3 separate regions of the Homo sapiens genome follow, and regions 2 and 3 are each linked to region 1. The links come from fine-mapping of genetic effects on gene expression. A gene starts in region 1. Each other region holds a variant in brackets. All regions are shown on one strand. Distances are between the middles of the regions.

Region 1 (10,673 bases):
CATCCATTTTCTTTCTGAGGAACAGTGGTTCATTCACAGACGCATTCAGGCAAACCAGAACAAGAAAGAACATTTAAAGCACTGCTTTGCAAATAGATGCTTTTTAGCAGCAATTTTTACCACGTCTTAAGATTCAAATGACAGATTCATCCTCCAAGAATTAGAAATGTAACTAAACAAACAAGCATATGTGTATGTTGGGGAAATTAAACAGATCCACATCTAGGTTAAGGAAATTAGGTACTGGAAGAAAACCAAATGAATAAAACTAGGTCAGGTGTGGGACCTACAATTGTGGCAGTATGTATGTAAATTTAGGAACAGCAGAAACTAGCAGCCTTTCTCTCAACCCCTCACACCAACGCTGTAGGTTTTTGCTACAGCTGAGAAAATATTTCTCATTAAAAAAGAGAGAACAAGAATGAGTTCATACATGCAGGGATGCAGGCAGAGTCATACCCACCCACCAATATTAAAATGTGTGTTTTTCTTCAGATCTTAGGAAATTCAACTTTGGCTGGAACCATCAACTTTGCTACATCGGCCAATCCAACCAGCTGGGAATTCTAGTAATTTTGCTCACTGCCCCCAGACGACTCTATCCCCTTATGAAGGAGACATATTTGTAACCCACTGAACAGAAAACTGGCCTTTAAAATAATGTCATCCTGCTGTCTCCTTTCTGTGGCTACGGTGCTAATGTGGTATTTCAATTTCTTCCCTCAATATCCTCTTCATTTTAACAAAGAATATTTCTTCTCGAGGCCAGGCACAGTGGCTCACGCCTGTAATCCCAGCACTTTGGGAGGCCAAGGCAGGTGGATCACCTGAGGTCAGGAGTTTGAGACCAGCCTGGCCAACATGGTGAAACCCCGTCTCTACTAAAAATACAAAAATTAGCTGGGCGTGGTGGTGTGCACATGTAATCCCAGCTACCTGGGGAGGCTGAGGCAGGAGAATCGCTTGAAACCAGGAGGTGGAGGTTGCAGTGAGCCAAGATCGGACCACTGCACTCCAGCCTGGGCGACAGAGCGAGACTCCATCTCAAAAAAAAAAATTAATAATAATATTTCTTCTCTTTGCATCATACCTCAGTTTGGTATCACTCTAACCCACAGAGCTTCATTTTACTTCATAGCTTTTAGCAATACAGAACGATTTCTTTATAGTCCATGGCTTCCACTAGGATGTCAGCTCCGTGAAAATGGGAACTTATCACTACTGTATCTCCAGTACCTAAAACAGTGTCTGGCGCTTGATAGGCACTGAATAAGTTCGTGTTGACTGACCGAATGAATAAACATGCAGGCTGTCAGCCGACCACAATTTTCACTTCCCACCAACACCAAACCCTAATCTACAGGTAATCAATCATGGGGATTTAAGATGCTAATTGGTCTCCGTGCCACCATGGAGCCATGCCTCCAGAAATAAGCATCCCCTGCCTCACATTCTGCCTTACAGCCCACCTGCCAGCTCCCACTCCTTCCCACAGCATATCAAAGGGACACAGGTAATACTGTGTTAAGACCCCTTTACAAGGATTATATGCCTTGCCCTTGTCATGCTAATTATAGGGAAACTCCAGCTTTCTTGCAGAGTTTCTCCTGAAATTTCTCACTCTCAACATACCTTCAATTCAGCTTCATTTACTGGCCTAACCTCTTGATCTTTCATTTCACTCTCATTTCCTACTAACAAAGGGTTGGTCTAGCTTCTCATTTCCCAAACACCAAAATATGCTCTCTAAATCCTCCTCTGTGAGAATCACTCCCTGGTTTAGTCTCATAATGCTTTACCAAAAAGCTAAGCAGGCTGGGTGCCGTGGCTCACGCCTGTAATCCCAGCACTTTGGGAGGCGAGGCGGGCGGATCACTTGAGATCAGGAGTTCGAGACCAGCCTGACCAACATGGCAAAACCCCGTCTCTACTAAAAATACAAACATTAGCCAGATGTGGTAGCGCGTGCCTGTAGTCTCAGCTACTCAGGAGGCTGAGGCAAGAGAATTGCTTAAACCCAGGAGGCAGGGGTTGCAATGAGCCGAGATCGCGCCATTGCACTCCAGCCTAAGCAACAGAGTGAGACTCCATCTCAAAAAAAGAAAAAAGAAACCAGGTTTTTAACGTGTCCCAGATACCTTAGCTTTCTTTGTGTCCTGATTGAGGGGTATTATAAGGGAAATGTTATCTGTGGGACACTTTAACAAAGATCTACAAAATAATGATAACAATGTCAGCACTTCCCAGTTACTCAATTTTATCCATCAGTTTCATCCTTCTGCTTCTCATAGCAGGATCTTCAGGAATCAGCTCTTTCTCTTTCTACTTTACCCTATACATACTCCTTTTTTTTTTTTTTTTGTGAGACAGAGTCTCGCTCTGCGACCCAGACTGGAGAGTGCAGTGGTGCGATCTCGGCTCATTGCAACCTCCACCTCTTGGGTTCAAGCAATTCTCTTGCCTCAGCCTCCTAAGTAGCTGGGATTACAGGCACCTGCCACCATGCCTGGCTAATTTTTGTATTTTTAGTAAGAGATGAGATTTCGCCATGTTGGCCAGGCTGGTCTCGAAACTCCTGACCTCAAGTGATCTGCTCACCTTGGCCTCCTATACATACTGAGCCACCGAGCCCGACCCCTATACATACTCCTAAACGTTGCTCAATCTCTCCCCAGAGTTCTTCACCCACTCTCGAGTCTCTATCCTCTTGCTTCATTTCAGTCCATCTCAGTTTATGACACATTACTGTTTGGGTTCTCAATCATTATCCCAAGAGCCACGATGACTTTTACTTAGACCAAAGTCAAGTTCATCCTTACAACCCACAAGTGAGGTTGATCAGAACCCAGAGAGAAGTTTAGCAAAGGAGGTTAAAACGAAGTAAATAATTCCAAACGGTATCTTGAGAAAACTAAATCCTCATTGCTGGTCTGCCATGATCATCACTAATATCAAACAACAAATGTTGGAAACCGCAATGCCCATATGGCACTGGATAAGTTACGAAACCTCTCTTTGCTTCTGTTCTCCCATCTGTCTTGCAAGAACAATAGTGCTCGCTCCCTGGCTCCTAAAGGTATCAAGACAGGGAAAGCTTTTTTTTTTTTTTTTTTTTTTGAGACAGTGTCTTGCTCTGTCGCCAGGCTGAAGTGCAGTGGCGCAATCTCAGCTCACTGCAACCTCCACCTCCCGGGTTCAAGTGATTCTCCTGCCTCAGCCTCCCAAGTAGCTGGGAGTACAGGTGCGCGCCACCACACCCAGGTAATTTTTGTATTTTTAGTAGAGATGGGGTTTCACCATGTTGGCCAGGATGGTCTCGATCTCTTGACCTCATGATCTGCCTGCCTCGGCCTCCCAAAGTGCTAGGATTACAGGCGTGAGCCACAGCGCCTGGCTGGAAAGCATTTTTTAAAAAACAAAACAAAAACAACAGTGTCTTAAAATAAGACTAAAAAATTGTCAAAATAAATCCCTTGACAAACTTATTAAAAAACAGAGATCCAGGCCTGATATCAGATGTTAATCATGCATCTAACCAAATAATATCTTAATTTGGGAGTAGGAGGAGTGCAGAGGGGAGTGGAGGGGGCTTTACTATATAACCAGAAATCTAGGCTAGAATTGTGGCTGTAAATTCACTCTGGCATGACCGAACAGTACCAATGCCAAGAGTAGCACTCAGATGATGCACCAAAGCCCCCCCAAAATCTAGAGTTTCCTGGATGCTACCACCAGGATCCAGTCATGGCAACAGGGATCTTAAAGGTGTAAATGATTAACCTTCAGGATGGCTCACCTAGACGTGCAAACGTTTGAAAAAGCTAAGCTCTCTACCAGGGTAACCCATTGGCTCTCATCTCTTAGATTTCGTAAGAGTTTTACCTTCTGGGTAACATTTCAAAGCCCTGCTAAGATTAGTATCTACACCTGAACTCTGGACCATGGCTCCCTTCCAGCCACTATCTCTAGGCTGTCAATCGGGGTTAATTCGCTTTTTTTTTTTTTTTTAATCCTGTACTCTAATCATAGGAATTTCAACCAAGTTTCAGCTGGCTTCTGCATCTCACACTCCAGCAGGGACACAAGCCCGAAGGAAGAAAGGTGCCCGTCCATCTCCAGGCCGGCTTTCCCCACCTTTTTCCTTTTTGCTTTCCACCTGCATGAAGTTCCCTCTAAAGGTGCATGTCATTTTCTGGCCCTTTAAGTCCCGACACCCCATCCCACTCCGAGTTCCCTTCCATCCTCCGCACTTTCTCCCTCCCCACTTGCAGTTTGCCTCGACCCCCTCGGGGAGTTTCTCGGTCCCTCTCCGGGCGTCTTTCTGCACCCGTACCCTTCTCTCCGCAGAGCGACTCCGGCCTTGCTTCCTCTCCCCTGCCCTTTCCCCTCCCCACCACACCGCTGCAGCAGACGACCCCGTCCCCACAGCCGGCGCGTTCCCTGACCTCCCCTCCGCCCCTCACCTCGGCCCCCTTCCCTCGCGCCCCGGAGCCCCGGCCTCCCCACCCCGCCCCCGGGTCCCCCCACGCCGACCTCGGCCACTCCCTCCCGGTCACTCACAGGAGGCCGGAGCAGGTGGTGCACACGAAGCTGCCCACGGTGATATCCACGTAGGTGACCCCGCGCTGGGCGCACTCGAAGCAGTGGCGGTTCCCGGCCTGGCTGCAGCCACCCAGCTCCCGCACCCGACGGCACCACACCTCCGAGGCCGCCTCCGCCTCCGCCTTGCCCCCGCTGACCCCGCCGCCCGGGCCCGGGCCCTTCTTCGCCGCCATCACCATCGCTGCCCACTCCCTCCCCGCTAGTCAGCAATCACCCCTTCAACCACTGCCGCCTTCCCGCCTCCTCAGCCGCCTCCGCACGCCCGGCTCCCCTGACAGAAGCTCGGGAGCGGGCGGCATCCGCAGGAGACTTCGCCGTCCACCACCCTCCTTGCCCGTCCTGCACACTGATTGGCTAGGTTTCTCCCACCTCCTTACTCCGATTGGCCCTCCCTGGGACGGCCTCCGGTTGCTGGAGCCGCCAATGCCCCGCCCCACCGCCTTCAGGCCTCAGGCCTCTCCTATTGGCCGGCAGAGACCCCAGCAGCGAGAACCGTGCGTGCCCTCTCCTTGTCCCCGCCCCCTCTCGCCGCTGCCTCCACCGTGGCCCGCCTCCTAGTTCCGATTGGTGAGTCCTCGGCACTCGGGCTCCGACGCTAATTTTGATTGGCTGGCGGGGCTGCAAAGTTAGCGCGCGAGACAGAGGAGGTGCCCCGCGCGTGCGTAGCTGTCGTCCTCCCGACTGATGACGTTAATTCCCGGCAAATTTCAAAGGCTTACTCTAGACTGTGTAGAGTGTCATGCAAAGCCGAAGAGAAGTGGCCATGTGAGGGGCTGAGCAGGAGGGGGAAAGAAGAGAGCGCTTAAGGGAGAGAGGGAGAGGGAGCAAGAGTGCTTTACTAGACCAGTGCTCTAATTCCTGAGCCACAGAGCGAAGGGAGTGCTTTATAAATGTCATTTCATTCGCTCCGCCTATCCCAGAGGTGGAATCCCCATTTTACACCCTTAGGTTCAACAACTTGCGGCAGATCACACGAGTGCGTGGCCCAGGATTCCACTCTGGGTCTTCCAACTTTAGAAACCCTGCCTTTAACCCTCCTAGTAGGTGGACTATTATTCGATTATTCATTTAACAAACACTGAGTGTCTGCTAGGTTTCAGGCACGTTCTAGACACTGGGAATAGAATACAGCAGCGAAGCAATCAAACAAAATATTCTTATAGAGCTTAGTTTCTAGTAGGGGGAAGCAAACAATACACAAATTAAAGAATCACCAGTTAGTAATAAATCCTACGCAGAGAATTAAAATCACATCTTGGAAAAGACTTTTTGGGTACTTTTTTAATTTTTTAATTTAATTTTAATTTTTTGAGATGGAGTCTCACTCTGTTGCCCAGACTGGAGTGCAGTGGCACGATGTCAGCTCACTGCAACCTCTGCCTCCTGGGTTTAAGCAATTCTCATGCCTCAGTCTCCTGAGTAGCTGGGATTACAGGCGGCCACCACCACCCCCAGATAATTTTTGTATTTTTATTATTATGATTATTATTATTTGAGATGGAGTCTCGCTCTGTCGCCCAGGCTGGAGTGCAGTGGCACGATCTCGGCTCACTGCAAGCTTCGCCTTCTGGGTTCACGCCATTCTCCTGCCTCAGCCTCCCGAGTAGCTGGGACTACAGGCACCCGCCACCACGCCTGGCTAATTTTTTTGTATTTTCAGTGGAGACGGGGTTTCACCGTGTTAGCAAGGATGGTCTCGATCTTCTGACCTCGTGATCCGCCGGTCTTGGCCTCCCAAAGTGCTGGGATTACAGGCGTGAGCCACCGCGCCCGGCCAATTTTTGTATTTTTAGTAGAGACAGGATTTCACCATGTTGGCCAGGCTGGTCTCAAACTCATGGCCTCAAGTGAGCCTCCCGCCTTGGCGTCCCAAAGTGCTGGGATTACAAGCATGAGCCACAATGCCTGGCCACCTGTTGGGTACTTCAGATTGGGTTGGTCACCATTTTTAAAACAATTACTTTTTTTTTGAGACAGGGTCTCGCTTTATCACCCAGGCTGGAGTGCAGTGACACAATCATGGCTCACTGCAGCCTCAACCTTCTGGACTCAAGTGATCCTTCCACCTCAGCCTTCCAAGTAGCTGGGAGTACAGCTGTGCACCACCATGCCTGGCGAATTTTTAAAAATTTTTTGTAGAGATTGGGTCTCACTATATTGCCCAGGCTGGTCTGGACCTCCTGGGCTCAAGTGATCCGCCCACCTCAGCCTCCATCTCCCAGGTTCAAGCGATTCTCCTGCCTCAGCCTCCCAAGTAGTTGGGATTACAGGTGCGTGCCACCATGTCCAGCTAATTTTTGTATTTTTAGTAGAGATGGGGTTTCACCATATTGGCCAGGCTGGTCTTGAAGTCCTGACTTCAAATGATCCACCCACCTTGGCCTCCCAAAGTGCTAGGATTACAGACGTGAGTCACCGCACCCGGCCTCTTTTTGTTTTGTTTTGTTTTTTTTGTTTTTTTTTTTTTTTTTGAGACAAGGTCTTGCTCTGCTGCCCAGGTTGGAGGGCAGTGGCACAATCATACCTCACTGCAGCCTCAACCTCCCCAGTTCAAGTGATCCTCCCACCTCAGTCTCCAGGGTAGCTGAGACTACAGGCGCACACCACCATGCCTGGCTAATTTTTGATTTTTTGTAGAGAAGGGGTCTCACTATGTTGTCCAGGCTGGTGGCTGGCAGCCTGCTTTCTCTCTCTCTCTCTTGTTTTTTTCTTTTTGAGACAGGGTCTTACTCTGTCACCCAGGCTGGAGTGCAGTGGCACAATCTTGGCTCACTGCAACCTCCACTTCCTGGGGCTTGAGTGCTCCTCCCACCTCAGCCTCCCGAGTAGCTGGGACTACAGGTGCATGCCACCATGCCCAGCTAATTTTTTGTATTTTTAGCATGTTGGCCAGGCTGGTCTCGAACACCTGAGTTCAGGTCATCTGCCCGCTTTGGCCTCTCAAAGTGCTGGGATTATAGGTGTGAGCCACCGCACCCGGCCCCATTTTTCAATTAATGGCACCATGAGCCACCTAGTTGCCCAAAGCAAAAATCTAGAGCTACTCTCTTCAATACGGCAGCCACTAATCATATGTGGCTATTTAAGTTTAAATTAAATTAAAATGGGCTGGGCGTGGTGGCTTATGCCTGTAATCCCAGCATTTTGGGAGGCCGAGGCAGGCGGATCACGAGGTCAGGAGTTCGAGAAAAGCCTGGCCAACATAGTGAAACCCTTTAATCTACTAAAAATACAAAAATTAGCCAGGCATGGTGGCAGGCACCTGTAATCCCAGCTACTTGGAAGGCTGAGTCAGGAGAATTGCTTGAACGTGGGAGGTGGAGGTTGCAGTGAGCTGAGATCGCGCCATTGCACTCCACCCTGGGTGACAGAGCGAGACTGTCTCAAAAAAAAAAAAAGAAAGAAAGAAAGAAGAAGGAAAGAAAAAGAAAAGGAAAGGAAAAGGGGAGACTAAAGGAGGAGTAGGTTAGGGCAGGGCCTAACCTACTGGGCCATGGACCAGTACCTGTCTGTGGCCTGTTAGGAACCAGGCCACGCAGCAGGAAGTAAGTGGTGGGCAAATGAGCAAAGCTGCATCTGTATTTACAGCCACTACCCATTGCTCCCATTACCGCCTGAGCTCTGCCTCCTCTCAGATCCGCAACAGCATTAGATTCTCATAGGAGCACGAACCCTATTGTAAACTGCGCATGCAAGGGATCTAGGTCATGCACTCCTTATAAGAATCTAATGCTTGATGACCTGTCACTGTCTCCCATCACCCCCAGATGGGACCGTCTAGTTGCGAGAAAACAAGCTCAGGGCTCCCACTAATTCCACATGATGGTGAGTTGTATAATTATTTTGTTATACATTACAATGTAATAATAATAGAAATAAAGTGCACAGGCCAGGCGCGGTGGCTCACGCCTCTAATCCCAGCACTTTGGGAGCTGAGGTAGGCAGATCACGAGGTCAGGAAATCGAGACCATCCTGGCCAACATGGTGAAACCTCGTCTCTACTAAAAATACAAAACTTAGCTGGCCATGGTGGCACGTGCCTGTAATCCCAGCTACTTGGGAGGCTGAGGCAGGAGAATCGCTTGAACCCAGGAGGTGGAGGTTGCAGTGAGCCAAGATCGTGCCACTGCACTCCAGCCTGGTGACAGAGCGAGACTCCGTTTAAAAAAAAAAAAGTGCACAATAAACTTAATGTGCTCAGATCATCCCAAAATCATCCCCCAACTCCCACCCGCCGGTTAGTGGAAAAATTATCTTCCTGGTCCGTGGTGCCAAAACGGTTGGGGACTGCTGGGTTAGGGGGTGCTGATAGGCAGAAATCAGTAGCTTGGTTTTGGACATGTTGATTTGAGATCCTTGTGAGGCATCCAGTGGGCTGATAAGCAGGCAGGTGGATATGTATAGACTGGATTTCCAGGCCAGGCCAGAGCTGGAAATGTAGGTTTAGGAGTCATCGCTTAGAGCCATGGGACTGGTTGCTTAGGTACAGCATGTAGAGAGAGACTAGAAGCAGGCCCAGAAGTAAACCCTAGGCACCCAATGTGTACTTTGTTCCTTTTCTCCAGTTATCACAGCCACATGCATTTCAACATCCCTAAAAAAAGGCAACACCAGACCGGGTGCAGTGGCTCATGCCTGTAATCCCAGCACTTTGGGAGGCCGAGGGGGGTGGATCACCTGAGGTCAGGAATTTGAGACCAGCCTGGCTAACATGGTGAAACCCCGTTTCTACTAAAAAATACACAAAATTAGCTGGGCATGGTGGCGCATGCCTGTAATCCCAGCTACTCAGGAGGCTGAGGCAGAATCGCCTGAACCCAGAAGTTGGAGGTTGCAGTGAGCTGAGATCGCACCATTGCACTCCAGCTTGGGCAACAAGAGCAAAACTCCATCTCAAAAAAAAAAAAATACAAAAATCAGCTCGGTGTGATGGCGCATGCCCGTAATCCCAGCTACTCAGGAGGCTGAGGCACAAGAATTGCTTGAACCTGGAAGGCAGAGGTTGCAGTGAGCCAAGATTGCATAGCTCCAGCCCAGGTGACAGAGCGGGACTCTATCCCCCTCACCCCCCTCTTCAAAAAAAAAGAAGGCAATACCGTCACATCCAGATATGCAGATGGGGCATCTCAGCCTACTAAACATTCCTTCTGAATTGCAGAGTTCACAATTTCCAAGTGCTGCCCATGCCTCCTCTAGCTTCTCATTAGCCAAGGGTTATTTCTTTTTTCTTTTCTTTTCTTTTCTTTTTGAGATGGAGTCTCACTCTGTTGCCCAGGTTGGAGTGCGGTGGCACAATCTCGGCTCACTGCAACCTCCGCCTCCTGGGTTCAAGCGATTCTCCTGCCTCAGCCTCATGAGTAGCTGGGACCACAGGCGCATGCCACCATGCCCGGCTAATTTTTTGTACTTTTAGTTGAGACAAGGTTTCACCATGTTAGCTAGGATGGTCTCGATCTGCTGATCTCATGATCAGCCCACCTCGGCCTCCCAAAGTTCTGCTATACAGGCGTGAGCCACCGTGCTCAGCATTTTTTTTTTTTTTGAGATAGAGTTTCACTCTTGTTGCCTAGGTTGAGTACAATGGTGCGATCTCGACTCACTGCAGCCTCCGCCTCCCAGGTTCAAGAAATTCTCTTGCCTCAGCCTCCCTAGTAGCTGGGATTACAGGCGCCCACCACCACACCCGGCTAATTTTTTGTATTTTTAGTAGAGACGGGGTTTCACCATGTTGGCCAGGCTGGTCACGAACTCCTGGCCTCAGGTGATCCACCCGCCTCAGCCTCCCAAAGTGCTGGAATTACAGGCGTGAGCCACCGTGCCCAGCTGAGCCAAGGGTTATTTCTTATCATCTTGCAACTTTGAGCAAATTGGTAAATTTAACTACCACCAATAGTGAGTGAAAAAAATTAGAACGTTCATGTAGATAGTGATGGTTTTCTGCTGATTTTTGCCACTGGGTGTGGTGGTGTGAGGGCCGTTGAGGAGCTCACCCTCCTCCCATCTCTACTCCACCCAGGTCATACTGGGGAGCAACACTCCCATTTTCCCTTCATAATCAGGGGGAGCACAG
Region 2 (10,673 bases), 31 kb after region 1:
GGCCTCAAGCAATCCTCACCACTCAGCCTCCCTAAGTGCTGGGATTACAGGCCTGAGCCATCACGCCTGTCCTTATTTCCCAAAGTGCTGGGATTACAGGCGTGAGCCACTGCGCCCAGCCCAAAACTTTACTTTCAAAGGACATAGTATCTGAATACTAAGACTTTACGAACTGTTTTATCAATCCATGGACTTCTAACCTCCCATTCAGGGACATGGAAATCATCTCTGACTCTCTCTCCTGTGTTACTATGAAGATTCCATGCCTCTTTGGAGATTCTGTTGCTTGCAACCCCGCTCCTGGAATAGAATTCTGTGCTTGTTAGAGTAGTTTGGTATTTCATTTGCAAGAAACAAGAACTAACTGCAAATTTTAGGGGGAAAAAAGGGCTTGGACATACCATAAGGACATAGGTGGGCTGGAACTGAAAATCTAAGAATTTGAGGTTGGCTGGGAACTGGCCACTGTCTCTTTCATCTTTCATGGCCCGCATAGCCTCCTGCATGGCATCCTTTTCTCTCTCACTGTTACCCTCCTAAGCAGTGGGGATTTCATTAGGCTGGCTAATCATTTTTAGACTCTGAATGTCAGAGCCCAAGTCAGTAATAATAATAGGAGACTTCCATACCCCATTTAAATAATGGAGAAGTCATTAGGCAGAAGATCAACAAGGAAATAGAAGACTTGAACAACAGTATAAACTGATCAGACCTAACAGGTATCTATAAAATATTCAACCCGCCAACTGCATAATCTATATTCTTCTCAAGTCCACAAGGACACTCTCCAGAATGAACTATATGTTAGGCCATAAAATAAGTCTCAATATATTTAAAAAGATTGAAATCATACACAGTACATTCTCTAACCATAATAAAACAAAATTAGAAATCAATAATAGAGCCCAGGCACAGTGGCTCACACCTGTAATCACAAAATTTTGGGAGACCGAGGCAGGAGGATCACTTGAGGCCAGGAGTTCAAGGCTAGCCTGGCCAAAGTGATGAAACCTTGTCTCTACTAAAAATACAAAAAATTAGCCAGGTAAGGTGGCATACGCCTGTAATCCCAACTACTTGGGAGGCTGAGGCACAAGAATCGCTTGAACCTGGGAGGCAGAGGTTGCAGTGAACCTCAGTGAACTGAGATTGTGCCACAGCACTCCAGCCTGGGTGACAGAGCGAGACTCTGTCTCAGAATAAAATAAAATGAAATATAAAATAAATCAATAATAGAAATTTGAGAAATTTAAAACTATGTGGAAATTAAACGCAGTCCTAAATAACTCATAGGTCAAAGAAGAAATCACGGCTGGACATGGTGGCTCACGTTTGTAATCCCAGCACTTTGGGAGACCAAGGTGGGTGGATCACCTGAGGTCAGGAGTTCAAAATCAGCCTGGCTAACATGGTGAAACCCCGTCTCTACTGAATATACAAAATTAGCTGGGCGTGGTGGTGCATGCCTGTAACCCCAGCTACTTGGGAGGGTGAGACAGGAGAATCGCTCTAACCCAGGAGGCAGACGTTGCAGCGAGCAGGGATCGTGCCACTGCACTCCAGCCTGGGTGGGTGACAGAGTGAGACTCCATCTCCAAAAAAAAAAAAAGAAAGAAAAAGAAATCACAAGAGAAATTAGAAACTACTTGGAGATAAATGAAACTGAATGATATACCAAAAACTTAAAGGATTTAGCTAAAGCAATATTTTGAAGGATATTTATAGTTGTAAATGCCTACAGTGAAAAAGAAGAAAGATCTCAAATTCAACAACCCATTTATTTATTTATTTATTTACTTATTTATTTATCTATTTACTTATTTTTTGAGACAAAGTCTCGCTCTATCTGAGGCTGGAGTGCAGTGGCGCAATCTCAGCTCAATGCAACCTGCGACTCCCCTGTTCAAGGGATTCTCCTGCCTCAGCCTCCTTAGTAGCTGGGATTACAGGCGCCTGCCACTGCACCCAGCTAATTTTTGTATTTTTAGTAGAGACGGGGTTTCACCATTTTGGCCAGGAGGGTCTCGATCTCCTGACCTTGTGATCCACACGCCTCAGCCTCCCAAAGTGCTGGGACTACAGGTGTGAGCCACCACACCCGGCTAATTTTTGTATTTTTAGTAGAGACAGGGTTTCTCCATGTTGCCCAGGCTGGTCTCAAACTGCTAACCTCAAGTGATCCGCCCGCCTGCCTTGGCCTCCCAAAGTGCTGGGATTACAGACAGGAGCCACTGCGCCTGGCCTGCATGTCTTCTTTGATCTGGCCCCACCCTCCTTTACTTACTCTGTTCCTTCAAATTGGAATGTCCTTCAGCCTCCACATCTACAACAATGGCTGGAATTGTCTCCGTTCTTCAAGGCCTGATTATAATTCCATCATCTTCATGTAACCTTTTTTTTTTTTCTTCATCCTACTCTTCAACTGATGGAGCACAAAGTCTGGTAGAGGAGATAAAGGAGACAATTGGGTTCTGTCTTGCAATGTGATAACACTCTGGTGGGTGTGTGCACAGAGTCCTAGGAAGGCAGGAGGGTGAGGTAGAAACTGTTGGGTTAGTTGAAAGATAGAAAATTGCACACTCCAGTTGACTTCCACTTCTGAGGGCTTAGAACTCCATGAGGAGGCATCGATTTCATCTTAAAGGATCCCTTTCTACACTCATTTCTTTTCTTTCTTCTCTTTCTTTTTTTTTTTTTTTTGTTTTGTTTTGTTTTTAGAGACTGGGTCTTATTCTGTCACCCAGCCTGGAGTGCAGTGGTGTGATCGTAGTTCACTGCAGCCTCCAACTCCTGGGTTCAAGTGATCCTCCCATCTCAGCCTCCCAAATAGCTGAGACTACAAGTTTGCATCACCATGCCTGGCTAATTTTTTTTACTTTTGGTAGACACAAAGTCTCACTCTGTTACCCAGGCTGATCTCGAACTCCTTGCCTCAAGCAATCTTCCCACCTCGGCCTCCGAAAGCACTAGAATTTCAGGCATGAGCCACCACACGTGGCCTAACCTGCTGTTTTCTCAAGAGCAGGACAGTTTTTAATTTCTGGACCTATCGCATCTAGCAAGGTTCCTGGCCAGAAAAAGTGAAAATAATTTTTTTTTTTTTTTGGAGACAGAGTCTCGCTCTGTTGCCCAGGCTGGAGTGCAGTGGCGTGATCTTGGCTCACTGCAACCTCCACCTCCTGGGTTCAAGTGATTCTCCTGCCTTAGCCTCTAGAGTAGCTGGGATTACAGGCATGCGCCACTACGCCTGGCTAATTTTTTTTTTTGAGATGGAGTCTCACTCTGTTGCCCAGGCCAGAGGGCAGTAGAGTGATCTCGGCTCACTGCAACCTCTGCCTCCCGGGTTCTAGCGATTCTCCTGCCTCAGCCTCCAGAGTAGCTGGGATTACAGGCACCCACCACCATACCCGGCTAATTTTTGTATTTTTAATACAGACAGGTTTTCACCATCTTGGCCAGGCTGGTCTTGAACTCCTGACCTTGTGATCCACCTGCCTTGGCCTCCCAAAGTGTTGGGATTACAGGTGTGAGCCACCACACCCTGTTGCCTGGCTAATTTTGTATTTTTAGTAGAGATGGGGTTTTTCTATGTTGGTCAGGCTGGTCTCAAACTGCTAACCTCAAGTGATCCGCCTGCCTCGGCCTCCCAAAGTGCTGGGATTACAGGCATGAGCCACCACACCTGGCTGGGACTTGCTTTTAATAAACTAAATGTGATGGAAATGACAGTGTGTGATTTCTGGGGCTAGGTCATAAAAGACATTGTGCTTCTGCCTTGCTCTCTCTCTCTCAGAGCCCCCACTCCGGGGGCAAGCCAGCTGCCGCATCACGAGGACATCCACGCAACCTATAGAGCTGCTCAGGAGGAACTGAGGCCGGCTGCCAATAACCAGCACCAACTTGCCTGCCGTGTGAGTGAGCCATCTGGGAAACCAAGCCTCCAGCCTCCATGAAGCCTGCAGGTAACGTCAGCCCTCCAGTCTTCCGGTCTTCCAGCTGAGGCCCCACACGTCGTGGAGCAGAGCCAAGCCAATCCCGTCATGCCCTGAATTCCTGATCCACAGAACTGCGAGAGAATACATGAAAATTGTTTTAAGCCACTACGCTCTGAGATAGTTTGTTATGCAGCAGACAACAACTGATGTAACAGTGGCAGGTGTACACGGAGTGCCAAGGGAATGCAAAGAACGGACACTTAGGGGCTTGGAGTGGTGGCTCATGCCTGTAATCCCAGCACTTTAGGAGGCTGAGGCATGAGAATCACTTGAAACCAGGAGTTCAAGACCAGTTTGGGCAACATACGAGACCCCTGTCTCTACAAAAAAATTTTAAAAATTAGCTGCCCACACTGGCACATGCCTCTAGTCCCAGCTACTCTGGAGGCCGAGGCAGGAGGATGGCTTGAGTCCAGGAATTGGAGGCTGAAGTGAGCTATGACTGCACCACTGCACTCCAGCCTGGGAGACAGAGTGAGACTGAGACCCTGTCTCAAAAAATATATATATTATAAATACTTAATTCTAAATTTTATGATATAATTGTATTGAGAGGATAGGGGAAGGGAAAGAGTTTTGTGTGGGGGTGTAAAAGTTAAATCCTCATTTCCTGTTTTAAGAAATCATAGATCGTATCTAAAATAGAAAAATCAAGGAATAGCTATACAAGCAAGTTATTTAGAAACTGGAGCTGGGCTCATGCCTGTAATCTCAGCACTTTGGGAGGCCGAGGCAGGAGGATCACCT[G/A]CGGTCAGGAGTTCAAGGGTAGCCTGGCCAACATGGTGAAACCCCATCTCTACAGAAAATACAAAAATTAGCCGTGTGTGGTGGCACGCGCCTGTAGTCCCAGCTACTCAGGAGGCTGAGGCACGAGAATCGCTTGAACCCAGGAGGCGGAAGTTGCAGTGAGCCAAGATCATGCCACTGCACTCCAGCCTAGGTGACAGAGCAAGACTCTGTCTAAAGAAAAAAAAAAAAAAAACAGAAAAGAAACCAAGAGGCATATACTGGAAGAAACAACTGAAGAAGTTGGTTGAATCCAAGAAGCAGGTCAAGAGTAGAAAGAGCAGGGATTGCTTTTCACCATTGTTAACCTTTTAGTACAATTTGACTCTTAAAATTATGTATGTGTATAACTTGACAAAATAAAAACAAACTAAAAAAAGGTCAGAGAGAAGGAGCAATAAAATAGGAGATTTAGGTGGAGCGATGGAACATGTTGTTCTTTGTATTTTATTTTATTTATTATTATTATTATTATTATTATTATTTTGAAACAGAGTTTCCCTCTTGTTGCCCAGGCTGGAGTGCAGGGGCGCGAGCTCAGCTCACCACAACCTCTGCCTCCTGGCTTCAAGCAATTCTCCTGCCTCAGCTTCCCGAGTAGCTGGGATTACAGCCATGTGCCACCACGCCCAGATAATTTTGTATTTTTAGTAGAGATGGGGTTTCTCCATGTTGGTCAGGCTAGTCTCGAACTCCCAACCTCAGGTGATTCGCCTACCTTCACCTCAGGTGATTCACCCTCCCAAAGTGCTGGGATTACAGGCGTGAGCCACCACACCCAGCCTGTTCTTTGCATTTTAAATTAAGGGGCAGGGCACATCAAACTATTTAATATGTGCAATGAACAATAAAATATATCCTTAGGATTTATATGGGGCAATTATAGAGCAAAGATACAGGAAGAGATCGATGTCAGGAGACAGTGTGATGGAGAAACAAAGGACAGAAGGAAAGAGAGGGGAAGAGATAGAAACAAATGCCAAGACCCAGGAAAACACAGAAAGACATAACCCAGCCTCATATAAACTCAAAGTGAGAAGGTGGAGAGACATAAAGAAATCCACAGGTGGCTGGGCGTGGTGGCTCACGCCTGTAATCCCAGCACTTTAGGAGGCCGAGGCGGTGGATCACCTGAGGTCAGGAGTTCGAGACCAGCCTCGCTAACATGGAGAAACTCCGTCTCTACTAAAAATACAAAAAGTAGGCGTAGTGGCACATGCCTGTAATCCCAGCTACTCCAGAGGCTGAGGCAGGATAATTGCTTGAACCCGGGAGGTGGAGGTTGCAGTGAGCTGAGATTGGGTCACTGCACCGCAGCTTGGGCGACACAGCGAGACTCCATCGCAAAAAAAGAAAAAAGAAAGAAATCCATGGGCTATGGAAGTATGTACGCTCACTCAGGCACACACCACCAAGCGTGATGAAGACCCAAGTCTACATAGATAGCACCTCACACTTTTGTTAAATAGCACAGAATTAAAGAATTATCCCAGCCTGGACAACATGGCAAAACCCTGTCTCTATCAAAAGTACAAAAATTAGCCAGGTGTGGTGGTGCGCGATGTAGTCCCAGCTACTTGGGAGGCTGAGGTGGGAGGATCTCCTGAACCCAGCAGGCTGAGGTTGCAGTGAGCCATGATCACACCACCGCACTCCAGCTTGGGCAACAGAGTGAGACCCTGTCTTACAAAAAAAAGAAAAAAAAAAAAAGAAAAGAAAGAAAAGGAAAGGAAAGGAAAAGAAAAGAAAAAATGATTGTTGAGGTAGGAGGCAAGACTCAACTCCAGAGGCAGGGCACGGACACCAGACCAAATTGAGGACCAACTAAAAATGGGTTGGGACAGAAGCAGCTTTCCATAAAGACATCCCTTCCAGAGTGCCATGTCAGTTTACCGTTGCCATGACAACACCCAGAAGTTATCTCCCCTTTCCATGGCAACCACCTACCGACCTGGAAGTTACCACCCTCATCCTAGACATTTCTGCATAAGCCACCCCTTAATTTGCATATAATTAAAAATGGGCATAAATGAGTTTAGGTCTGCCTCTCAGCTGCTATTCTGGACACAGTGCCTATGGGTCATCCCTGCTCTGCAAGGAGCCGTACCTTTGCTGCGGCTGTGCACTGAAGCTTCAATAAAAGTTGTAACACTGGCTGGACACGAGTGCTCAAACCTATAATCCCAGCACTTTGGGAGGTGGAGGTGGGCGGATCACTTTAGCTCAGGAGTTCAAGACCAACCTGGGCAACATGGTGAAACCTCGACTCTACAAAGTACAAAACATATTAGCCAGGCATGGTGGTGTGTGCCTGTAGTCCCAGCTTCTCAGAAGACAGGGGTGAAGGATTGCTTGAGCCCAGGAGGCAAAAGTTTCAGTGAGACTTGATCATGCCACTGCACTCCAGCCTGGGTGACAGAGTGAGACCCTACCTCCAAAAAAAAAAAAAAGTCTTGTTCTACCAGCTAATTGGATTGGCAGGGACCTCCTTTTTAATATATATATATAGGTATGTGCCACCGCACCTGGCTAATTTTTGTTTTTCTTTTTTTTTTTTTTTGAGATGGAGTCTCGCTCTGTTGCCCAGGCTGGAGTGCAGTGGCGTGATCTCGGCTCACTGCAAGTGGGTTCATGCCATTTTCCTGCCTCAGCCTCCCGAGTAGCTAGGACTACAGGCGCCTGCCACCATGCCCGGCTAATTTTTTTTTTTTTTTTTTTTTTTTGTATTTTTGGTAGAGACAGGGTTTCATGTGCTAGCCAGGATGGTCTCGATCTCCTGATCTCGTGATCCACTCACCTTGACCTCCCAAAGTGCTGGGATTACAGGTGTGAGCCACCGGGCCTGGCCTAATTTTTGTATTTTTAGTAGAGATGGGGTTTTGCCATGTTGCCCAGGCTGGTCTTGAACTCCTGGGCTCAAGTGATTCACCTGCCTCGGCCTCCCAAAGTGTTGGGATTACAGGCGTGAGCCGCCACGCCAGGCCTCATGAGTTTCTTATGTAGCTGTATCAAACTTGTTTCTCTTTTGAACTGTGATTACAGTTCCAGTGTTCATATGTTGCCCTGCAAGTAGGTTATAAGTGCATGGGGGACAGGAACCAAGCCTTATCTACTGAAGAATCTTCCTCGGGCCCAGCTTCCAGGGAGGCTCTGAATTTGAAGCCCCTCTCTGCCATTCACTTGCTGTGTGACTTTGGGCAGGTTACTTGACCTCTCTGTGTGTCAGAGCTTTTATCTTCAGAGATACCACTGGGTTGAATGACATAAAATTGCCAATATTCTATTATATTTGACCCCAAAATGGCAATTTCATATAGTTCAACCTAATAAAACCACTACCTCTTAGGTATTTTGAGGGTTAATTGTCATGTCTATTGTACCCCAGGCAAGCACCATCCTGCTGAGTACAAAGTGGACCTGATAGTAAAGCCCCTCAGACTTTGTGGAACAAAAGCAGAACCCTAGGAACGGCAGAGCAACCAGTTAGAAAGAGCCTGGCTCCTGATGAACTGCAGCTTCCGTATCTGTTATGGATTGCTAATGTCTGGACCCTTATATGAGCAAGATGTAATCCCCCATTTAGGTTAAACCACTGTTCTTTGGGTCTGGGTTTTTTGTTTGTTTGTTTTTTCTTTGAGACGGAGTCTCGCTCTGTCTCCTCAGCTGGAGCGCAGTGGCGTGATCTTGGCTCACTGCAATCTCCGCCTCCTAGGTTCAAGCGATTCTCCTGCCTCAGCCTCCCCAAGTAGCTGGGACTAAAGGCGCCCACCACCACGCCCAGCTAATTTTTGTGTTTTTAGTAGAGATGAGGTTTCGCCATGTTGACCAGGCTGGTCTCAAACTCCTGAACTCAAGTGATCTGCCCCTCTTGGCCTCCCTAAGTGCTGGGATTACAGGTGTGAGCAACCATGCTCAGCCTGGGTCTGTTTTGAAAGAGGTAAACTGACATCTTAATTAATAATGGGTGTGTGTCAGAGAGAAATAAACCATGTACTTCCACATAGAGATTTCTGCCTTAAGGCCGGGCACAGTGGCTCACACCTGTAATCCCAGCACTTTGGGAGGCCAAGGCGGAAGGATTATCTGAGGTCAGAAGTTCCAGACCAGCCTGTACAACATGACGAAACCCCGTCTCCACTAAAAATACAAAAATTAGCCAGGCATGGTGGCGCGCGCATGTAATCCCAGCTACTCGGAAGGCTGAGGCAGGAGAATCACTTCAACCTGGGAGGCGGAGGTTGCAGTGAGCCAAGATTGCACCACTGTATTCCAGCCTGGGTGACAGAGCAAGACTCCATCTCAAAAAAAAAAAAAAAAAGTTTCTGCCTTGGGAGACTGAATGTGATGACACTGGCTGAGATGGTCAGTCCAAGACATGAGGGCTGGTTGGGGAAGTAATGAGTTCAATTGCAGATAGATTTTTGTTTTTGTTTTTAGAGACAGGGTGTCTGCAGATAGATTTTTGTTTTTGTTTTTAGAGACAGGGTGTCTCGCTCTGTTGCCCAAGGTGGAGTGCAGTGGTGTGATCATAGCTTACTGCAGCCTTGAAATCCTGGGCTCAAGCGATCCTCCCACCTCAGCCTCCTGAGTAGCTGGGACTACAGGCATGTGCCACCACGGCTGGCTAATTATTATTTTTTATTTTTTGCAGAGACGGGGGTCTCTCTATGTTGCCCGAGCCAGTCTCGAACTCCTGGCCTCAAGTGATCCATCTGCCTCAACACCCTAAAGTGCTGGCACTATAGGCATGAGCCACGGCACCCAGCCACTGTAAGCCTTTTTGCTTCACCTAGCCACCAATCTAAATGGGGGGAAGTGTTCTCCATTTTTTTAGATTTTCATATCTGTAAGTAGACCAACCATGACAGCTTTACGACCCAAATACAAGGCTACATTTGATGTTACTAGCGAGCAAAATAACTTCAGATCTACATGGGCAGTGAAATAAATAGTGCGCATCTTTAAAATTTCCCCTCTAGTTCTAATCTTTTCAGGTTTCCCCCTCATTACTCTGAAATTTCTGGAATGTGTACATGTTGCTCTCACACCCATTCCTGGGCTTTAAGGCAGGAACATCAAAAAACATCAGCATGAGGTCACCACTTGGTCAGTGGAAAATTTTTTTTTTTTTTCTGAGATGGAGTTTCGCCCTGTTGCCTAGGCTGGAGTGCAGTGGCGTAATCTCAGTTCACTGCAACCTCCACCTCCCGGGTTCAAGCAATTCTCCTGCCTCAGCCTTCCAAGTAGCTGGGATTACAGGAGCGTGCCAGCATGCCCAGCTAATTTTTTGTATTTAGTAGAGTTGGGGTTTTGCCATGTTGGCCAAGCTGGTCTGAAACTCCTGACCTCATGATCTGCCCCCCTTGGCCTCCTAAAGTGCTGAGATTACAGGCATGAGCCACCGCGCCCGGCGGGTCAGTGGAAATTTTTTTAAATGGTGGTGACACCATCTCTGGTGCTTCCACCCTGTGGCTCCTGGCTCCCAGCCATTTTTCATGGTGGCAAAGACTGCCCCCAGGGTGGTGGCAGAGGTCAGTGTGTGGCCTGGACGAGTCCCAGCCAACATGCTCCTCACCCCATCCTGGACGCAACGTGGAGGTGGTAGAGAGAGAGGAGCAAGGGAAGCTGGACCCCCGCAGAGTGGACCACTACTCTACAGGGACATGCATGAGGGACACCTGGATCTGAACAGCTAGCACTGAGACACTCCAACACACGGTACCTGGAAACCGCAGGTGGCACTTTGAGGAAACAACCAGGTACGTGCAGGGATTTTTTTTTTTTTTTGAGACAGAGTCTGTCAGCCCAGGCTGCAGTGCACTGGTGTGATCTCAGCTCACCACAACCTCCGCCTCCCAGGTTCAAGTGATTCTCCTGTCTCAGCCTCCCGTG
Region 3 (10,673 bases), 23 kb before region 1:
AGAACTGGTAAGAGAATTAGGTAGAGGGACACAGAGATAATCTAGGGTGGCGAAGAGGGGAGAAAGAGAAGAGATGGAACATGCAAAGGCCAGGAGCGAAGCGGGAGACCACCCAGGAGACAGAAGGAGGGCAGAGGCTGGGAGAAGAACAGGAACAGACAGGATGGGGTCCTGATTGTTGGAAAAGACAGGGAGGCCAATCCCAGCCTTGCAAATAGCAGCAGCTAGAGGTTATTTCCAGAAAAATCTGCAAAGTAAATACACTGATCACCCAACTCCCATATCTCTTTGCTGCTCTCTGTGGAAGACTCAGACAAACCCCAAGAATGAATGGCCACGGGGCCAGGGCAATGGTGGAAAGGGAGGGGCCTCACCTGGCCTTGGGCCAAACAGCAAGGTGGCCTCTGCCCAGCCAGGTGAGGTGTTTGCCACCCACCCCCTGACCAGGTCTGTCTTGTCACCACACAAATAGCCCAGACACCACAGCTGGATGTTGTCACAACATCCCCAGGTGGAAAGAGCCTGGGGCAGAGAATGTTCCAGACCCAGGAGGGGTCTACTTCCAGCACCACATTGGCACCAACCTCCTTTGCCCACCCTGGCCCCAGTGGGCATTCCCCTCACATCCAACAAACTCCAGTCCCCGGCAGTGGTGGCTCCTCTCCCGCCACGCTTCTTCTCATTGCTAATGCGGGACTCTTGTTCAGACAGGGACGGGCTCTGCCCTGTCTCTGGCCAATGGCAGCATTATCACTGGCCCAGGCAGTCCAGCCCAGCAGAGCCAGGTCAAGGATCAGTCATGTTGACTGACCTGCAACCCCTCAAAGTGGCCTGAAGCAAAACCACAGGCGCCGTTTTCTCTTTCGTTCAAATGCAGTTCTTTTCCAACATTGCCTGCAATGAGCTTTGGTGCAGAGATTTGGGGACAGGGAGGCACATGGAGAAAAAAAAAAAAAAAAAAAGACCAGGCAATTGCACAAAGCCTTTCCCTGGAAAACCCAGGCTCTGGGGATGGTGGGGGTCAGGACACATGGCTGCCCCCCCTCCAGCCCTGGAGCTCCGGCTTTGATGGTCGAGGCACAGATGGGGATTCATCCCATTCCCCACATACGAGAGCAGTCTGGGAGCGGGAGATCGGCTGGGTGTGTGTATATATGTATGTATGTGCATATAGATAGATCTATTTATATATAATAGGCTATATTAGAAAATCCTCTCTATGTATAAATATAAAACACTGGTATCCAAACATGACACCAACAGCTAACTAAAGTGCTTGACAGGAGCCGGGCCCGGGTAAGCTCGATGGTAAACCGCTCATCCTGGGCGCTGGGGAAGCAAAACAATGGGGGACCCCTTCAGCAGGGGGTGCTGCAGGAGGAAAGTGTGTGCTGGCCAAGCTGGGCCACCAAGAGCACTTGGGCCACCTGGGCCTTCTGGGTCTCAGGACTGTCTGGTCACTGCCCCATCAACACTGTGCCTCATCTTTCCCCTACCTTCCCCACTGCGCTCCCGTCCATGAGGAGCACAGCGCTGGCGAGCTAGGCCCAGGGAAGAGCTGTTCCACAGGGGACTGATCATTTGAAAAAAATCCCTCCCCCTCAACCATCACTCCTCCAGGTCAGGCCCTGCCCGCACTCCTCCTGGGCTTCCTGCCTGGGTGGGGGTGGGACGAGGGAGGGGAGAGAGGCTTTGTGGAATCTGAGGGCAGCCACCTTTCACCTGTAGGCCCCAAGCAAAGCATTAGCACCTCCACCATCCCCAAGGCCCATAGAAATGCCCACAGGCAAGTGGTCACCAGAGCTCTAGGGAGCAGAGGGGCCCCAGAAGGCAGGGAAGAGGCCCCCCAAAAACACAGTGCTACAAGAAGGGGTTGGTGGTTGGAGGTTTGGAGGCGAATGGGCTTGATGAGGGTCCAGTCTGGAAAGAAAGAACAATACATTTTCCAGTTAGGGGAGAGGAACTGGAAGCTTAGAAGAAAGGCAGCCAGGAGTCCTTTCTCCTGAAAAATCGCTATGCTGAGGGCAGTGGGAAAGTGAGGGAGAAAAGGCCAGGCACGGTAGCTCATGCCTGTAATCCCAGCCCTTTGGCAGGCCAAGGTGGGCTGATCACCTGAGGTCAGGAGTTCAAGACCAGCCTGGCCAACACGGGAAAACCCTATCTCTACTAAAAATACAAAAATTAGCCATGTGCGGTGGTGCACACCTGTAGTCCCTGCTACTTGGGAGGCTGAGGCAGGAGAATTGCTTGAACTCAGGAGGTAGAGGTTGCGGTGAGCTGAGATTGGGCCTGGGAGACAGAGTGAGGCTGTCTCAAAAAAAAAAAAAAAAGGAAAGTGAGGGAGAAGGGAGCCAAGGGCAGGGCTGGAACAGCATGGGAGATGCCAGTGCCCAGAAGAGCTGAGGCCCAAGCTCAGCCCTGGCTTGGACAACGCAGACCTTCACGAGGAAGGGGCACAGGGGCCACCTCACATCAGCCTCTTCTGGAAGGATTGTCCCAGAGGGAAAGCCCACGAGCCCTACCACAGCACCCCTGCTGGCACACTCACCATGAAGGGGTTGGTGGAGATCCCAGCTGGCTGGCTCAGTGGCCTCTGCCCCAACTTGGCTGATCCTAAGTCCCCGAAGGAAGAGCCTAGGGGGCGAGAGCAGTCACTCAGCTGACACCAGCCTGCCTTCCTGCAGGCGGACAGCAAGGGGGGCCCTCCTAAACTGGGGGAGTAAGGGAACAGAGCAGTGGAAGTACCCGGGCGGGTCTGGTGCTTCCCTGGTCCCCCCTGCTGGTCAGAAAGGGCACTGCATGGGCTCTGATGAGGTCGGAGGAACAACTAACTGATCTCTATGCAGAGATGGGATGGGGTGAAAGGGTTTGTCCATCTACAGCTCTTACCATTCTGCTGCTGAACAAGCGGGGTCTGCGGGGGGAACAGCGGTGCTGGGAAGGAGCTGGCAAAGGCCCCAGTGGGTGGCACTGCCTGGGGGAAGCCAGGCCCAGCACTGCTCATCCCAAAGCCGGGCCCTATGGAGTGAAAGACGGGAGGCTCAGGTGAACTTCTGGAAGGTGGGCTGGAGAACTGTTTTTCCTAAGTCCCTCCAAGATGGGAAAATGGGATATAGTTTTTTCCTGACATGAGGAACGAGGGACCCAGCCATGGAACTCTTCTGCTTCTCACACCACCAAACAACCCTGCCCTCTCCCTGCCCGGGGGTACGTGGCAGGGAGGGCATGGTAGTTCCAGGCACGGGCGCGGTGCAGGACTGGGCTAGCCTCCCACTAAACTGCAAAAACAGCACAAACTTCTAACGCTGTCTGTGCTTCAGTTCTCATCTCTAAAATGGGGACAGTCCGTCTCATAGGGCTACTGTGAAGATCAAATCAGGGCCACGAAGCCCTCAGCACTGGGCCCACCACACAGCTCTTCTGTGTTTGCTCTTATTCCTCTCTCCCCAGCCTCAAGGCTTCAGCCAGCATGAGTCTGAGGGGAGAGCAGCAGAGGCTGGGGAGGGCCAGGGTGAGAGAAGACAACAGGCCTGGAGTTGATGGAAGCAGGGAACAGCGTGAGTGTTTCAGGTGGCTTAAGCTTCGGGACACAGAAGGGACTGGGGCTGGGTGCCCAAAGGGACACTGCTGAGGGCTGGAGACAGGAGAATCGCTGCCACTGTCAGTCAACTCTAAAACAGTCTTCAGTGCGGTCTCCGGTAAGTAGCCACCTGTGTGCTTCTAATTCTAAAATCTGGCTCTGTGACCTGGGTGCTAGGTGGCCTGGCACCGTGTGGGCAGGGGAAGAACCAGGCTGTCTGCTTCTCCTGACAGCGTGAGACAAAGGGTTAAGGGAGAGGCTGCAGGGTAATGTGTGCCTTGGAAGTCTCAGATGGTCAGGACAAGGGACCATGCTGGAGGCTTACCTGGCGCCAAGCCATTGGGCTGGAACGGGTTGGTGGAAGGCAGCGGGGACTGGGCGGCGGGAGCTGTGAAAGGGTTAGTGAAGGCTGCCCAGGTGGAATGGGGAGCGGCAGGAAAGAGAGAGATGGTTACTTTTTTTCTCACGTGCTTCATCCTGTGATGCCTGAGCATTCCTCTCAATCTCTCCCCTTCCCACCCTGTCCAGAGTCCTTAGACTCCTCCTGGCCTCAGGTCCCCTCCCCTGGGTCTCCACAGGCAGGACTCACCTCCAAAGGCCAGCCCTGTGCTGCTGCCGCCGCCGCCGCCCATCGTGACAGACTGGAGCGGGGGGACCTGGCCAGCCATCCCGAAGAGGCTACAACACGGGGAGAGAGAAGTCATACACAGCTGCCAGGGCCAATCAAACCTGAGCAAGGGGCCAGGAGATGCCAACCCTGCTCTCCAGGGTGAGTAAGGGAGAGGAGGGGAGGGGAGAACTGCCAGGAGATGCCGATGGGGCTGGGAGGAACATGGCCAGGCTTCGGGCGGCTCTCCTGCCCTACAGCAGACTGCCCACTGTCTGTACCTACCTGCTAGGAACACCTGCAGCGGGCACCCCGGGTCCCAGGAAGCTGCCCACGTCTGCGAGGCTGTTTGGCTGACTGGCGGGTGCCAGGGGAGTGGCACCAAATGGAGTCCCCTGGCTGCTCCCTGGGCAGTTGTGGAAAATACAACAGGGAGAGCTGAGGTAAGACAGGGCGGGAGGGGCAGGAGAGCAGATGGAGGTGGTGGTGGTGATGGATTGGAGTCATGGCATGACAGGTGCCTGCTGGGTTCTCTGAGGCAGCCCATTTTCTCAGGGACCACCCAGTTCAGGAGGTCTTGTCTCCCACCAAGAGTTCTGGGCAAGGTGACAGCCCAGCCCTTCTCCGTGTCCCCTGCGCTCAAAGCTGCGCTGCGGAGAGGAAAGCAGCTCGTCCCCAGGTCAGGCTGTCCTCCTCCTGCTCCAGTTTGGCTTTCATGTC[T/C]CACTTTTCCCTCAAGAGATGGAAAAGCCTGTCCTTTCCTCAAGCCCGCATTTCCATTTATCAGAACATGGCAGGGAGGGGCAGGCAGAGGCACCATGGAGGACAGCAAGTCCCATCACACTCAGGAGGCTCCTGGCCTGTGCAGCCTCCAGCTATCAGCACTGTCCCTTCCCCATTTAGCCGCTGCTTCTCGGGAGGCCGCCCCAGTGCCCTGAGCCTGGAGGCACTGTTCATGGGGCCAGCCCCGCTGCGGGGTTCTCCTGCCCTGCCTCTTCTTCAGAGCCAAAAAGAAAAAGCACAGAGGGCAAGGCCCACATGGAAATCTTACAAAACAGCTGAGGGCCAAGAGTCCTGGAAATTCCAAGCAATCTTGTCTCAGGGGAAGAGGCTGAGTCCCTGTCATTTTAAGAAAGCCTCCTGTCTGCACATCAAAGTCTCGTCTCTATCTTGGGACCCTATCGACCACACTGGGCTGCTGTGAATGTAAAAGGAGGGTCCAGATGGAAAGAGGCTTTATTGACAGGACGCGGCAGTTCATGCCTGTAATCCCAATACTTTCAGAGGCCAAGGCGAGCAGATTACTTGAGGTCAGGAGTTCGAGACCACCCTTGCCAACATGGTGAAACCCTGTCTCTACTAAAAATACAAAAATTAGCCAGGCATGGTGGCAGGTGCTTGTAATCCCAGCTACTTCGGAGGCTGAAGCAGGAGAATCACTTGAACCCGGGAAGTGGAGGTTGCAGTGAGCTAGGATCACACCATTGCACTCCAGCCTGGGCAATAAGAGCGAAACTCCGTCTCAAAAAAAAAAAAAAAAGGGAGATCTGGCCAGGTGTGGTGGCTCATGCCTGTAATCCTAGCACTTTGGGAGGCCGAGGAGGGCGGATCACGAGGTCAGGAGATCAAGACCAACCTGGCTGACACGGTGAAACCCCGTCTCTACTAAAAATACAAAAAAAAAAAAAATTAGCCAGGCATGGTGGCGGGTGCCTGTAGTTCCAACTACTCAGGAGGCTGAGGCAGGAGAATGGCGTGAACCCGGGAGGTGGAGTTTGCAGTGAGCCGAGATCATATCACTGCACTCCAGCCTGGGCGACAGAGTGAGACTCCGTCTCAAAAAAAAAAAAAAAAAAAAAGGGAGATCTTCCACATGCCAGGCACTATGCATAAATAACAGCGACCCGGGCCCTAAATGGGTGAAGCTGAGAATCTAGTAGGGAAGACGAAGTGCCCAGTGCCTACCTGCTGCCAGGTCCTGAAGCCCCGCTCCCTCTCACTGAGTGTCGGCACTTGTAAGACAGTGCTCTCCTTTGCCACCTCCTTCCTAAATGCCTGGGCTTTCTAGATGAATGAGTGCTGGCTGCCAGCTTCCTCCTGGGCAAGGCTACAATGCCACTGTGCTTACTTGGTCATCAATCCTTTCTAATCCACAGGATGCAAGACAGGCTAGAAAGCCACCTGGGTGGGGCCAGGCCCAGTGGCTCACACCTGTAATCCCAGCACTTTGGGAGGCTGAGGCAAGCAGATCGCTTGAGGTCAGGAGTTTAAGACAAGCCTGGCCAACATGGCAAAACCCTGTCTCTACTAAAAGCACAAAAATAAGCTGGGCGTGGTGGTGCATACCTGTAATCCCAACTACACGGGAGGCTGAGGCACCAGAATCACTTGAACCTGGAAGAGGAAGATTGCAGTGAGCCAAGATTGAGCCACTGCACTCCAGCCTGGGCGACAGGGCAAGACTGTTTCCAAAAAAAAAAAAAAGCCAGCAGCATGGTGTTGGATCCTCTACTGACTCTCCCAGCCGAGGCCTTTCCCTGCCTGCCTGCCTCCAAGTACAGTATGTGGAATTTCCACGCAAGCACGGCTCCCTTTCCTCGGATGGCTGACTCTTTGTGCTGCTGTGGTCCTGCATGTTCCAGGAGCTTCACCCAGTGAGGACCAGGCTGGGAGAGAGGCTGCAGGCCATGCTGTGCCTCCCTGTGGACACTAGGGGGCAGAACCATCCCTAGCCCAGGCAGGGTTGGCCCTTTGCACAGAGGGTGCATTCTCACAAAGGAGGCGGTGGCCCAAGAAACACCTGCACTCCTGTTTGCTTTTCATTTCATGCACTTTTTTTTTTTTTTTTTGAGACAGGGTCTCATTCCAATTGCCCAGGCTGGAGTGCAGTGGCATGATCTCAGCTCACTGCAGCCTCGACCTTCAGGGCTCAGCTGATTCTCCCACCTTAGCCTCCTGAGTAGCTGGGACTACAGGCACGCACCACTATGGCCAGCTAATTATTTGTATTTTTGGTAGAAATGAAGTTTTGCCATGTTGCCCAGGCTGGTCTCAAACTCCTGAGCTCAGGTGATCTGCCCACCTCAGCCTCCCCAAGTGATGGGATTACAGGCATGAGCCACCACACCCGGCCTTCATGCGCTTCTTATACCACGCAGCTAGATTTCTACCCTGCCTTATCACAGTTTGAGGGAGAGAAGCAGTTTTGAAAACCCCTCTCTCCATACTCCCCCTCAGAAATATAAAAATAAAAGCAGGTTTGTCAGAAGAGACACCCACCTCTCAAAATCTCCTCTCTCAGTTCACACCCAACAGCTAAGTCACACTCACGGGAACACCTGCATGATCATGGTGTAGTGGGAAGCGGTTCTGCCAATTATCAGCATTAGATCTGGGCCAAGTTGAGCCAGTTTCCTGCAAAGGGAAGCTCTTTCCTTCCTCATGGACATAATGCATGAAGGCACCCAACAATGGCAGGATCCTCGGAAATGTTCCTTGGCTCTGGGTTTGGCTGTAGATTGACTGTTTTTGTTTTGTTTGAGACAGAGTCTTGCTCTGTCACCCAGAGTGCAGTGGCGCAATCTCAGCTCACTGCTACCTCAGCCTCCCGGGTTCAAGCAATCTTCCTGCCTCAGCCTCCCCAGTAGCTGGGACTACAGTCACGCACCACCATGCCTGGCTAATTTTTGTATTTTGGTAGAGAGGGGTTTCACCATGTAGGCCAGGCTGGTTTCAAACTTCTGACCTCAAATGATGCACCCCACTCAGCCTCCCAAAGTGCCGGGATTACAGGTATGAGCCACTGCGCCCAGTGACTGACTGCTTTTTGAGACAGCCAGATAGTGGACAAAAGGTTTAATGCTTGGGACATCCGTGGAGCTGAGCCCTTCCTTCTCTCTGAGTCTGCCCCAAAAACTGTCTTTACGGTGAAACCCTGTCTCTACTAAAAATACAAAAAATTAGCCAGGTGTGGTGGCGGGTGCCTGTGGCCCCAGCTACTCAGGAGGCTGAGGCAGGAGAATAGCGTGAACCCGAGAGGCGGAGTTTGCAGTGAGCCGAGATTGTGCCACTACACCCCAGCCTGGGTGACAGAGTGAGACTCCGTCTAAAAAAAAAAAAAAACAAAAACAAAAACAAAAAAAACTCTGTCTTTAGAGCAATCAATTGTACTGGGAAGGCATTTCAGAAGGGACGCATCTATAACAACTTTATATAGGCTGTTTCCTCGAGTGCTCCCATTCCTAGGAGCACACCTTTCTTACTAAATCGAATATTCCTGCACCAATGTACAATTCCTGCCAACAGCGCACAAGAAGGTCATTTTCCCCCACATAATACTGGCCATTATCAATCTAAAAATTTTGCCAACATGATGTGCAAAACTATCTTATCCTAGTTTGCATTTCTCTGATTAATTAGGTTGAGGATATTTTCTTTTGTTTTTTTGTTTTTCGAGACAAAGTCTCGCTCTTGTCGCCCAGGCTGGAGCGCAACAGCACGATGTCTGCTCACTGCAACCTCCGCCTCCCGGGTTCAAGTGATTCTCCTGCCTCAGCCTCCCAAGTAGCTGCTATTACAGGCGCCTGCCACCATGCCCGGCTAATATTTGTATTTTTAGCAGAGACAGGGTTTCACCATATCGGCAAGGCTGGTCTTGAACTCCTGACCTCAGGTGATCCACCTGCCTCAGCTTCCCAAACTGCTGGGATTATAGGCATGAGCCACCGCGCCTGGCCTATTTTCATATTTTTTTTTCTGGGTGTTACCTGCTTATATGTCTTGTCCATTATTATATTTTCATATTCACAGGAATTTTAAAAATACTTTATGGATACTAATTTCCATCTGTTTTCCATGTTGTATCTTCTCTCCATCTGTTTCATACCTTTAAGCTTTGTTTGTGTCATCTTTTATCATACAGAATGTGACCTATGGCCAGGCATAGTGGCCCATGCCTATAATCCCAGAACTTTGGGAGGCCAAGGCAGGCGGATCACTTGAGGTCAGGAGATTGAGACCGGCCTAGCCAACATGGTGAAACCCCGTCTCTACTAAAAATACAAAAATTAGCCGGGCATGGTGGCATGCGCCTGTAATCCTGCTACTCAGGAGGCTGAGGCAGGAGAATCGCTTGAATGAGATCACGCCATTGCACTCCAGCCTGGGCAGCAGAGTAAGACTCTGTCTCAAAAAACACACAAACAACAAAACAACAACAAAAACCAAAATGTGACCTATGTGATTTGTCTTTGTTAGAATTTATGGAGATTTTGTTTCCTATAGTTTATTTCTTACTTGTCTATTAGTCATGTGGGAAAGCATATTATAGTCTCCTAGTCCTTTGGCTTATTAAATTCTGATTGTGTCTAATAGTTTTTGCTTCGTGAATCTCATGGGTATGCGGTCAGTTATTTTAAGTACATGATTTTGAGAACCTCTTTGTGAATTTTAACTTTTTTTTTTTTTTTTGAGACAAGAGTCTTACTCTGTCACTCAGGCTGGAGTGCAGTGGCAGGATCTCGGCTCGCTGCAGCCTCTGTCTCCCAGGTTCAAGTGATTCTCCTGCCTCAGTCCCCTGAGTAGCTGGGATTACAGGTGCCTGCCACCATGCCCAGCTAATTTTTGTATTTTGAGTAGAGACGGTGTTTCACCATGTTGGCCAGGCTTATGTCAAACTCCTGACCTCAGGTGATCTGCCCACCTGGGCCTCCCAAAGTGCTGGCATCACAGATGTGAGCCACCACGCCCAGCCAACTTTTATCAATATAAAATGTTTCTTCTTATAGCCCTCCAAAACGATAAAATAAAAACAAAAGCAGCTAATCAGCTCACAGTGGCACAGTGAGAAGGCTGTGGGCAGAGCATGAGTCAAGAAGTCTGGGCTCTGGTCTCAGCTTGGTCGCTCTGTGGCCTGCATGACTAGGGAAATTGCTTAACTGCCTTATCTGTCAAATGGCCAAATTTTAAGGGTTCCTTCCAGCCCTCAAAACTCTATGATCAGAGGCACTTGGGTAGGCTCTGGGGTGGGGATAATAACTTACCAAAGCTGTAACTTTCAGTTAGCATCCGACTGGCTGGCAGTGAGGGTGGAGAAGAGAAGGGTGGGTAGAGGAAGGGAGAAAGAAAGAGTGTATGTCACTGGCTTTTCCCCAGACATCTGAGCCTGACGGCGAGCACTGCAGCTGCCCTCCCATGTGTCCAGGATGTCCAATGGCAGAAGGCACCCAAAGGCTATGAAGACTCAATGTGTAGAGCTTAGGAAGGAGCAGAATGCTTTAAGAAGGCCTGAAGAGTCTCTTGCAATGGCTAAATAACATAGTTTATTTGGTTTTGTTTGTTCGTTCGTTTGTTTTGAGATGGGGTCTCACTCTGTCACCCAGACTGGAGTGCAATGGCACAATAATCACTCACTACAGCCTCAAACTCCTGGGCTCAAGCGATCCTCCCACCTCGGCCTCCCAAAGTGTTAGGATTGCAGGCGTGAGCCAT

Which allele goes with the higher level. Alleles are on the strand shown, and positions count from the first base shown. SD is a standard deviation of normalised expression in the study named. Not every link is listed here.
For the expression in cerebellum of the gene that starts at base 4,925 in region 1, T is the low allele of the variant in region 3 and C is the other (moderate effect, 0.41 SD a copy in GTEx).

What was found. PIP is the estimated chance that this variant, and not a neighbour inherited with it, causes the effect. A credible set is the group of variants that fine-mapping cannot tell apart.
Region 2: its variant is the best candidate, but not a certain one, in a credible set for the expression of AGFG2 in whole blood (INTERVAL, PIP 0.69).
Region 3: its variant is the best candidate, but not a certain one, in a credible set for the expression of AGFG2 in cerebellum (GTEx, PIP 0.65).

Annotation. Positions count from the first base shown.
Region 1 is chr7:100,533,455-100,544,127 of GRCh38, reverse strand. It overlaps AGFG2 (ArfGAP with FG repeats 2), which reads right to left and starts at 4,925. Exons shown (of 12, transcript NM_006076.5): 1 at 4,561-4,925. The coding sequence starts at 4,781. It overlaps LOC124901708 (a long non-coding RNA gene), which reads left to right. Exons shown (of 2, transcript XR_007060453.1): 2 at 496-661. RefSeq lists silencers at 1,921-2,010, 4,565-4,864, 4,915-5,194, an enhancer at 5,074-5,575 and a cis regulatory region at 10,451-10,673.
Region 2 is chr7:100,502,748-100,513,420 of GRCh38, reverse strand. It overlaps LOC107986829 (a long non-coding RNA gene), which reads right to left and starts at 3,657. Exons shown (of 4, transcript XR_001745301.2): 1 at 3,620-3,657; 2 at 2,285-2,439. The variant G/A (reference allele first, on the strand shown) is at 4,743.
Region 3 is chr7:100,556,179-100,566,851 of GRCh38, reverse strand. AGFG2 (ArfGAP with FG repeats 2) reads right to left here. Exons shown (of 12, transcript NM_006076.5): 7 at 4,473-4,593; 8 at 4,170-4,258; 9 at 3,906-3,989; 10 at 2,890-3,018; 11 at 2,549-2,634; 12 at 1-1,920. The coding sequence ends at 1,861. Among named protein-coding and RNA genes, the nearest start is that of SAP25, 12 kb to the left of the region's middle. RefSeq lists enhancers at 6,748-6,797, 7,068-7,117. The variant T/C (reference allele first, on the strand shown) is at 4,908.